Regions from separate parts of the Homo sapiens genome. Here region 2 is linked to region 1. The links come from fine-mapping of genetic effects on gene expression. A gene starts in region 1. The other region holds a variant in brackets. All regions are shown on one strand. Distances are between the middles of the regions.

The links. PIP is the estimated chance that this variant, and not a neighbour inherited with it, causes the effect. A credible set is the group of variants that fine-mapping cannot tell apart.
Region 2: its variant is the best candidate, but not a certain one, in a credible set for the expression of PPIG in Th17 cells (Schmiedel 2018, PIP 0.86).

What each region holds. Positions count from the first base shown.
Region 1 is chr2:169,582,334-169,587,717 of GRCh38, reverse strand. It overlaps PPIG (peptidylprolyl isomerase G), which reads right to left and starts at 3,367. Exons shown (of 14, transcript NM_004792.3): 1 at 3,228-3,367. RefSeq lists an enhancer at 3,402-3,451.
Region 2 is chr2:169,658,042-169,663,425 of GRCh38, reverse strand. It overlaps CFAP210 (cilia and flagella associated protein 210), which reads left to right. Exons shown (of 9, transcript NM_001085447.2): 5 at 990-1,146. It also overlaps the pseudogene LOC100421474. Among named protein-coding and RNA genes, the nearest start is that of CFAP210, 34 kb to the left of the region's middle. The variant A/T (reference allele first, on the strand shown) is at 2,819.

The sequences.
Region 1 (5,384 bases):
AATAACAGCAGTTTTCTCTGAATACTGTCTGTAGTAAATTTCAGGATGCAAGTTTTTCCCTACAGAAATAAAAATACCGAGTTCTTATGGTGACCATTTATGCATTAAACCAGGGAAAATCACCGACACTTAAGCAACATGAAAATTGAAGTTTAGTCCTAACATTAAAAGCAAAAAGGTCTGGGCACGGTGGCTCACGCCTGTAATACTAGCACTTTGGGAGGCCAAGGTGGGCAGATCATGAGGTCAGGAGTTTGGGACCAGCCTAACCAACATGGTGAAACCCCATCTCTATAAAAAATACAAAAATCAGCTGGGTGTGGTGGCACATGCCTGTAATCCCAGCTACTCAGGAAGCTGAGGCAGAAGAATTGCTTGAACCCGGGAGGCGGAGGTTGCAGTGAGCCGAGATCACGCCACTGCACTCCAGTATGGGCAAGACAGCGAGACTCTGTCTCAAAAAAAAAAGCAAAAGTCAGGCTGGGCACAGTGCACAGTGGCTCACGCCTGTAATCCCAGCACTTTGGGAGGCGGAGGCGGATGGATTACTTGAGGTCAGGAATTTGAGACCAGCGTAGCCAACATGGTGAAACCCCTTCTCTACTAAAAATATAAAAATTACCCGGTGTGGTGGCAGGCACCTGTACTCCCAGCTACTAGGGAGGCTGAGGCGTGAGAATCCCTTGAGCTCAGGAGGTGGAGGTTGCAGTGAGCTGAGATCATGCCACTGCACTCCAGCCTGGGCGACAGAGCAAGACTCTGTCTGAAAAAAATAAATAAATAAAAGCAAAAAGCATGCAATGCCACAATGCAACAGAAAGACTTGCAACAAACTCTTCAGGTCACTTGCATTAATTATCTATGTATTCCTTCATGACATCTTAGTACACTGGGATTCTAAAAATAGACAACATGTTATAATTATGTTTAAATACTCTATTTATAAACTAATAGGAAGGAAAAAAGCCTAACTAAAGGGGCAACTACTATTTAAAGAATTAACCCCAGATAGTGTCCTAACAGAAGTACTTTATTATGAATGGCTTCCACTTTCCCTTTGTATAAAGAAGAGGATGCTGCCTCACAGAAAATCTAATTTAAGGCAAAATATCAAAAATATGTAGAAGTCACCAATACTGCAAGACCACAATAATAAGCACCACAGTAAATCGACTATATGGTTAAAAATAAATGTAATGAACACTCTTCACCCATAAAGGAACCACTGAGTTAATGAAAGCCAACTTCACACACAATTTTAACAAAGCTGAGTATTTAATTTTCAAGCCCACAGTTGATGGAAGGTGGAGATCAAAATGTCATTTTGCAGGTAGGTGAAGAAACTGAAGCTCAGAAAGATAATTGGGCCAGAAAGTCCAAATTTTTCTAACCTAAGAAGTTTACATACTTATACACTCCTGACAGCAGGAGCACTCCTGACAACTGACTGCCTAGAAAAGCCTTAAAAAGGAAACCAACAATTCAAATGCGCAGAATCCTACTACAAGACCCTATAGGATCTCAGAGCATCAATAATTCTGAATCATAAAGAAATAGTCAAACAATGTACAATGAACTCTTGTTTAAGACACAGAACCATGTAATTTGTTACAGAAATAATTCTGTCCCAACTCGTTAACATAAAAAAAAGGGGAGTGCTAAAACGGGTAAATTTTCAGGATATATTAAAAACAGGAGAGAAGCAGCCATTCTAAATGTATCTTTTCTGGATTTTATAGCACGATTTCAAAATTTATAAAATGTTCACCCCCCCACCCGTCATTGTTACAAAGTAGCAATTACCGGCCATCCTGTTACCAAATGGGAATACACAAAGACAAAAACGTGTGTGTGACCGACACACACACACACTCACTCTTTTTTCCTGGTTTTAACTACTGAAAGTTAATATCAGGCCCCCCTAATTTCTAAAACATCTAATTGTTCTTTGGACAACTATGTTAGTACCAAACTATAAAAGCAAATACTTTTGTATTTGTGTTCACTACTGCAAAATGTTGGTTACACACAGAAAGGGCTATCGTGGAAAGAAATTAAAATCAATGCACAAAATGGTGCTTTTATAGCATTTCCAAAACGATTGTGCATACTCCTTGCCAGCACATCTAGACTTTGCTCCTTAAGACTAAACATGAGCTGGCCGTGCGCGGTGGCTCTCGCCTGTAATCCCAGCACTTTGGGAGGCCGAGGTGGGCGGATCACGAGGTCAGGAGATCGACCATCCTGGCTAACACGGTGAAAACCCGTCTCTACTAAAAACACAAAAAATTAGCCGGGCATGGTGGCACGTGCCTGTAGTCCCAGCTACTTGGGAGGCTGAGGCAGAAGAATCACTTGAACCCAGGAGGCGGAGGTTGCAGTGAGCCAAGATCGCGCCACTGCATTCCAGCCTAGGCGACAGAGCGAGACTCCGTCTCAAAAAAAAAGACTAACCAAGAACCAAATTAGCATACTTCCCCTTCAGGCATACTGAGCCCCGAAATCATCATCTTCCTCCTAAAGAGTAATTATCTCCTCCTAAAAGGCCTGCGCAGCTCACAGCTCCTCCGAAACACGGGGGAACTTCGCGAGAGCTCAAGACCCTGGACTTGAGTTTTAGAAAAATGCTTAACAAAGTGGCCTCTGCCACTTAACTGCACGACAGCCACTGTGCTGTGAGAGGAAAAGGTCGAAAGAGGAGGAAAGCTAGTCTTCAATTTTAATCCCTGTGATTCAGGCTCTTCGCCCGTCACTCTCCAACCCTAGCCTGACAGGACGTCAGGCTGTCTCCCCCTTCCCCACCAGTCCCGCCACCTACCCCGCAACAGTGCTGAGTCTTAGGATTTTGAAGCTTTAAAAATCAACCCGGCTCCCTAGAGTTCAGGCCGCAGTCGCTGCCGCCATGTTACAGCTTGTGCGGCAAAATGCGTCAGTGAGGGAGGTGTGCGCCTGAGTGGGGAGGGCGGGGGCTGGCAGAGGAAGGACCGTCCCCAGGCCCCGGGGCTCGACTGCAAGCCTTCTCCTTCTGCAACAGCGGCAAAGGCACTGCTGCGGTCCTCAGGGACTTCCTCTGGGCCCAAGCAGCCCCGATACCTCGAGGGAAAGACGGTAAACCCAACCCGGTCAGCCGCGCCGGCTCCGCCCCTCTTCCCAGGCCCTTCCCGCTTTCGTACGCAGGGACTGCTGAAATGACGCCGCCAGAACAACTTGAGCCTCATACCACTTACCTGCACCGGTAGAGTTTTCCTCTTCTCTGGGTCCGGTCCTTTGAAGCGCTTCAAATCTACCGCCGCCAGAAAAGGCGCTAAAGCCCGCTAACCGCCTCCCTCCCCCACAACTCAGTCCTGGCATGGAGAGACAGCGTCGCACCGGAAGCGCGTCAGGAGTGGGTTGTCAGCATCGGCCAGCGTTCACCTGCTTGCGTCACCACGCCCTCCTAGGACTTCTAGGATTTTGGTGCCTTTTAAATTCCTAGTTTATAGGTGGCCTAATGCTTTGTGGATGCGTTGACTGGGAACGCTTGTAACCGTTAAAATGCCATATCCTTTGTGAAGTAAAGTGCCTCATTTAATAAACATTTATTGATCTTACGCTAGGTTATCAGAAAGGAAGGCCTACCTTCATGGAGCTTCCAGTTAAGCTTCCACTTAACGCTAGGATATAAGTTCTAAAAACGCAGTAATGAGCAAAGTGTTATTTGAGGAAAGAGGAAGAAATTACAAAGAGCTTTGATGTTCTTTGTTGTTTTACAGATAAAGAAATTGAGGCTCAGGGAAGATAAACGCCTCCTCCTCAAACACACTGTTCTTGAATGCCAAAGCAAGTCTTTTGATGCCAAATCTAGTGCCTTCTAGAGAAAATATGGCATATATTATTTAATTATTTTAAGGGGCAAGGGTCCCCGGATTATGTTAGAAATAAATAACCATTGCTGTTTGGGCGGGGGGGTGGGGGGGGATGGGCAGTGATTCTGGTAGGGATGTGGGGTGTGTTTTAAAGGAACTAGCTAACTAGAGGACTTAAATTGTTCTGTCGTTTAAAGGCAACGTAAATTATGATCATTTAAATTTTTCACTCACTTGCATCAGGTAAATTAATTATCAACAACAGTTAGGCATGTGGTGGTGCTTCTAAGGGGCGTGACCAGTTTTACACAGCAGTAAAACAGAGGACATTTCTGCCTCTCCACCCCCACCTCTTTTAAGTCATTGCCCTTTATTGCAGGAGAGCAGCAGCATATTCATCTTTAGATAGTTCAGAGATTAAACGGATTTACACTTCGCTGTGTGTGGAGGGGACAATTCTGCAATACCTTAAAACAGGGGTCCCCAACCCCTGGGCCACAGACTGGCCTGGCTAATTTTTTGTATTTTTAGTAGAGACAGGGTTTCTCCATGTAGGTCAGGCTGGTCTCAAACTCCCAACCTCAGGTGATCCGTCCTCCTTGGCCTCCCAAAGTGCCGGGATTACAGGTGTGAGCCACCACGCCCGGCCAACGCTTTTCGAAAGAAGACATACTTGCAGCCAACAATCATAATGAAAAAGCTCAACACCACCAATCATCAGAAAAATGCAAATCAAAACCGCAGTGAGATACTATCTCATACCAGTCAGAATGGCTATTATTAAAAAGTCAAAAAATAACAGGTGCTGGTGAGGTTGTGGAGAAAAAGGAACATTTTACAGTGCTGGTGGGAGTTTAAATGAATTCAACTATTGTGGAAGACAGCGTGGCGATTCCTCAAAGACCTAGAGGCAGAAATACCATTTGACCCAGCAATCACATTACTGGGTATATACCCAAAGGAATATAAGTTGTTCTGTTATAAAGACATACACATATGTATGTTCATTGCCACACTATTCACAATAGCGAAGACATGGAGTCAACCTAAATGTCCATCAATGGTAGACTTGATAAAGAAAATGTGGTACATATACTCCATGGAATACTATGCAGCCATGAAAAAGAATGATCTCATGCCCTTCGCAGGAACATGGATGGAGCTGGAGACCATTATCCTTAGCAAACTAATGCAGAAACAGAAAACCAAGTACCACATGTTCTCACTTATAAGTGGGAGCTAAATGATGAGAACACATGAAGACATAGAGGGGCACAATACACACTGGGGCCTATCAGAGTGTAGACAGTGGGAGGAGGGAGAGGATCAGGAAAAATAACTAATGGGTCCTAGACTTAATACCTAGGTGATGAAATATTCTGTACAACAAACCCCCATTACACAAGTTTACCTCTGTAACAAACCTGCATATGTACCCCACAACTTAAATAAAAATAAATAAATGGAAGGATACTGTATGTATAGTGTATATAATAAACAACATTTGTTATCCTATAGTTTCCTTATATATATTTATAT
Region 2 (5,384 bases), 76 kb before region 1:
AGTTTGAGACCAGCCTGGGCAACATAGCAAGACCCCATTTCTATAGAAAAAAATTTTTTTAAAGAAAGAAAGGTTTATTCCTCAGACATTCATCTATTTAGGTGGGTTGTCGACCTGCCCTATGCCTACCTTTTCAGGAAAAAAAAAAAAAAGAGAGAGAGGGCAGATAGAGTAGTGAGAAAGCCTGTATATTGTTGATTGGCTAGCAAGGATGCGTGAGTTTTCCATGGGCAAGGAGACAACTTGGACTTGCGCTGTCTTGCCAGTATGCAGAGGTTTGGCTGCTGGATGAAGGGCCTTTGAGACCTGGAGTCTTTAATCAACTGCTTAGTGTGGGAGCTCCTGGTAGCGATAGTGGTGGGGTTTAGGGGTGAGCTGAAGAGATGGAGCTGGAGCTAAATCACTCAGATCAGGGCTCTGCAGTGAGGAGGACCCTCAGGGATCTCTGAGGAACTCACACATGTGTTCTGAAAGATAGCCAGGGAGGCTCACAATTCAGAAGAAATTATCAGCTAGTCAATACTGGCTACAGAAAGAATTACAACCCAAGTGGTCAGTTGAGTAAGGAGACCTTTCTTCCTTTCATTCCATCAAACTGCATTCCTTGAGAGGCTAGGCCCATGGCTTATGTAGCATCATCTAGGGCTGAAGTTGGGAAGCACTAGGGATTAGGAACCTTTCTGTAAAATAATGTCACCATTTCTTCTTACTGTCATCCCATTAACTGGTTCTTTCTAAAGGAAAAGAACACTTACTTGGGTGAGTAATGAAATAAATTTTGAAGCAAGGAAAGTATTGCCAATTCTAGGTTAACCAAGATTGGATTAGTTTTAGTCACTGCTATTTAATGTCTGTTCTTTTCCCCCAAAGAAATTCACAGATTTTTCCTTGCAGCTTCAACTCATTCCAGGTTGGAATTGAATTCATTTCTTAAAAATATAACCTATTTTTCTGCTTTGTTCTCAATTATAATTATGTTTTTGCTTTAGAATAAAGGAACATGAGGAAGAAGAGGAAAGAAGGAAAAAATATGAAGAAAAAGATGCTGAGGAAATAAAGCGACAGAATGCATTATATGAAATTGAAATGAGAAAAAAACTAGAAAAGAAAAGAGAAGAGATGCATGAAAGCAGGAGACGGTTTCTTGTAAGTTGAAAGGGCAAAAGTTCCAAAAAGGTTCAAAGTCAAATGCCCAACTTTTAAAATTGATACATAATATATTTGTACATGTTTATGGAGTACATGTGGTATTTTGACCCATGCATACATTATGTAATGATCAAGTAAGGGAATTTAGGTTATCTGTCACCTTGAACATTTATCATTTCTTCGTGTTGGGAACATTTCAAATCTTCTAGTTATTTTGAAATGTACAATATATTGTTGTTAACTATAGTCCCCCCACTAGGCTATCAAACACTAGAACTTATTCCTTATATCTAACTGTAAGTTTGTACATCCCCACTGTGTCTCCACATCCTTACCAGCTTCTGATAGAATAACTGTCATTCTAGTCCCTGCCTCCACTAGATCACTTTTTAGCTCACACATAATGAGTGAGAACATAATATATTTGTCTTTCTGTGCCTGCAAATGCCTAACTTTTAATATTTAAAAAAAAGTGGAGTAGAAAACAAGTTGCTATTAAGTTGGGTTTCTAAGGGAGTGCATCCTTTTGGGATAGCTATATTTGCTGTGGTTTTATGTGCATGTGCTCTCATGCATGAACAAGAAAGAGAGAAGAGAAAATGAGATTTTAAAACAATGAATATATTTTCTTGAGAGTTGTGAGGAATGAATGGGGTGATTTATGTTTGGTGTCTGTTGTGCCATTAATATGTGCTCCACAAATGGTAATATTTTTGTCGCAGTTCACCACAGGGGCATGTTTGAAGGGTCTTCTCGTCCCAGTGCCACTGCTCTCTAGCTCCAGGCCTGGGGCTTCCCCTAGCACTGCTGAGGAGCTGTCTGTGCAGCTCAGCCCCTGGAGGGCAGAGGAGAGGGGCTGAGAGTGCTTGGAGGTTCAAGAGGAGGATAAAAGGATAAGGATAGAATTACAAGCAGTGCCTGAAAATGCCCAGCCTACAGAATCTGAAAAGGAAATTTATAATTAATTAGGTGAATGTAGTATTAAAAGATGCAAACGGCATCTTGGAGGACTTACAGTCATACAGAGGAGATGACCATGAAATACAAGAGGTAATCCAGCAGCCAGCAGATGAGAAGTTGCAAGAGAAGGCATGGGGTGCATTTGTTCCACTGGGAGGCAAATTAAAGAAATTTTATGAATTGTCTCAGCGGTTAGAAGCAGCATTAAAAGGTCTTCAGGGAGCCTTGACAAGTACGCCATATTCTCCCACCCAGCATCTAGTGCAAGAACAGGCTTCTGCTAAAGAGTTTTCAGAAGTTCTTCATTTCACACTCTGGTTTGATGAACTCAGGATGACAAATCCTGCTATACAGAATGATTTCAGCTATTATAGAAGAACATTGAGTTGTATAAGGATTAATAATGTACCATCAGGCCAGGCGTAGTGGCTCATGCCTATAATCCTAGCACTTTGGGAGGCTAAGGCAGGCAGATCTCTTTGAGCTCAGGAGTTCGAGACCAGCCTGGCCAACATGGTGAAACCCTGTCTCCACAAAAAATACAAAAAATAGCCAGGCAGGGTGGTGCACGCCTGTGGTCCCAGCTACTCAGGAGGCTGAGGCTGGAGGATTGCTTGAGCCCTAAGTGGAGGTTGCAGTGAGTCAAGATCGTGCCACTGCACTCCAGCCTGGGCAATAGAGCAAGACTCTGTCTCAAAGAAAAAAAAAA[A/T]AATATATATATATATATAAAATAAGCAACCTAATGAGGCATCTTAAAGAACTAGAAAAGCAAGAGCAAACCAAACCCAAAATCCCTAGACACAAACCAAGTGCAAAATTAGTAGAAGAAAATAAATAATAAAGATCAGAGCAGAAATAAATGAAATGGAAAGAAACAAAACAAAACAAAAAAAAACAGTGAAATGAAAAGTTGATTTTTTTTTTTTTGAGACAGAGTCTTGCTCTGTCAACCAGGTTGGAGTGCAATGGTGTGATCTCAGCTCACTGCAACCTCTGCCTCCTGGGTTCAAGCAATTCTTCTGTCTCAGCCTCCTGAGTAGCTAGGATTACAGGCACGCACCACCACGCTCAGCTAATTTTTGTATTTTTTTTAGTAGAGACAAGATTTCACCATGTTGGCCAGGCTGGTCTTGAACTCCTGACCTTGTGATCTGCTCGCCTTGGACTCCCAAAGTGCTAGGATTGCAGGCATGAGCCACCGTGCCCAGCCAGAAAAGTTGTCTTTTTTTTTTTAAAGATAAACAAAATTTACAAACCTCTAGCCAGATTAAGAAAAAAAGAGAAGACCTGAATAAAAAAACTCAGAGATGAAAAATGAGACATTACAACTGATGCTGCAGAAATTCAAAAGATCATTAGAGGCTAGTATGAGCAACTATATGTCAATAAATTGGACAATCAAGAATACATGGATAAGTTCCTAGACACATACAACCTATCAAGATTGAACCATGAAGAAATCCAAAACCTGAACAGACCAATAACAAGGGATGAGATTGAAGCCATAATAAAAAGTCTTCCAGTAAAGAAACTTTTGAGTTAATGCTGGAATGAGTTAAGACTTTGGGGACTGTTGGGAAGGCATAATTGGTTTTGAAATATGAGAAGGACATGAGATTTGGGAGGGGTTAAGAGCAGAATGATATGGTTTGGCTCTGTATTGCCACCCAAATCCCTTGTTGAATTGTGATCCCAAGTGTTGGAGGTGGGTCCTGATGGGAAGTGATTAGATCATCGGGGGTGGTTTCTAATGGTTTAACACCATCCTCCTAGTGCTGTCTTGTGAGTGAATTCTCATGAGATTTTGTTGTTTAAAAGTGTGTAGCACTTCCCCCTTCACACTCTCTCTGTCTTACCATCATTTGAAGACATGCTTACTTCCTCTTTGCCTTATGCCATGATTGTTAAGTTTCCTGAGGCCTCCCAGCCATGCTTCCTGTACAACCTGTGGAACTTTGAGCCTATTTAAACCTCTTTTCTTCATAAATTACCCAGTTTCAGGTAGTTCTTTATAGTAATTTGAGAATGGACTAATACAGTAGGTATCATAAGACTCTATGATTAAGTATATTCAGTGGGAGCATTTGCCAAAACTTCCAAACTTGGTATGAAAGGTTGTACCAAGTTCTTTTTTTTAAAGCCCAATCTGGTGGACAAAGGTAACATATCTTCCTGATTTTTTATTTATTTTATTTTTTGAGATAGGGTCTTGCTCTGTTGCCCAGGCTGGAGTGCAGTGGCATGATCACGGCTCACTGAAGCCTTGACTTCCCAGGCTTAAGTGATTCTCCCACCTTAGCATTCTGAGTAGATGGGACTAGGCATACACCACTATGCCTGGCTACTTTAAAAAATTTTTTATAGAGATGGGCTATGTTTCCTAGGCTGGTCTCCAACTCCTGAGGTCAAGCAGTCCTCCTGCCTTGGCCTCCCATGGTTCTGGGATTATAGACATGAGCTACCACAACTGGCCTGTATCAGAGTTCTTAAGGACCAACCTCCTAATAGTGTAAAATATCTTCTAAATGCTCTCCGGTACACAATAAAACATTTGAATGATCAGACTAACTCCAAGCAAATTAAATCCATGATGCAATAACAGTTCGGGAATAAGCACCTGTTGTAGACAGAAGACAGTATTCTGCACTGACTGAGAATACAGTTTTTTAGTGATTGCAATTACCATGACATTTTTCTTGCTTTTATGTCTTCCTCTGTTCCTCTTCTCTCCTTTAAGATCATGTTCTTATTCCTAAGACTTCTTCTCTATACCCAAATTAGTAAAGTTATACTCTAAAGAGATATTGTCCTTTCAAACAGGTAACCTACAGCAGCTAATTATTGGGGTCTCTACTGAGAAAAATTCTGTGACTTTTATCTAAATATTTTCAAATGTGAATTTTGGGGAAACTAATATTTATTTGCTTCTCCTACATGGCAAAACTGCCAATTCTGCTATTTGAAAACCCCCAATGACTTTATTTTCTACTATCACTTTTTTCATGTGCTGCCACAAAATGAAAATGTTTAAATATGTTGTACAAATGGTAGCCAACACAAACTTTTTTGTAGTTTTTAAGAGTTTAAAGTTTTAATTTTACATTTTGACCTTTTTTGTAAGGGTGTATGTTATGTGTTTCACCTTTGTTAACATTAAAAACTGTGATGTGTGCATAGAATATTACTTTCTAGGGCTAAATCTCTGATTTCCTGAAGCTTATGTCTTTTTCTTTCTTGATTTACTCCCTCGTCTTGCTATAATACACCTTTGAATA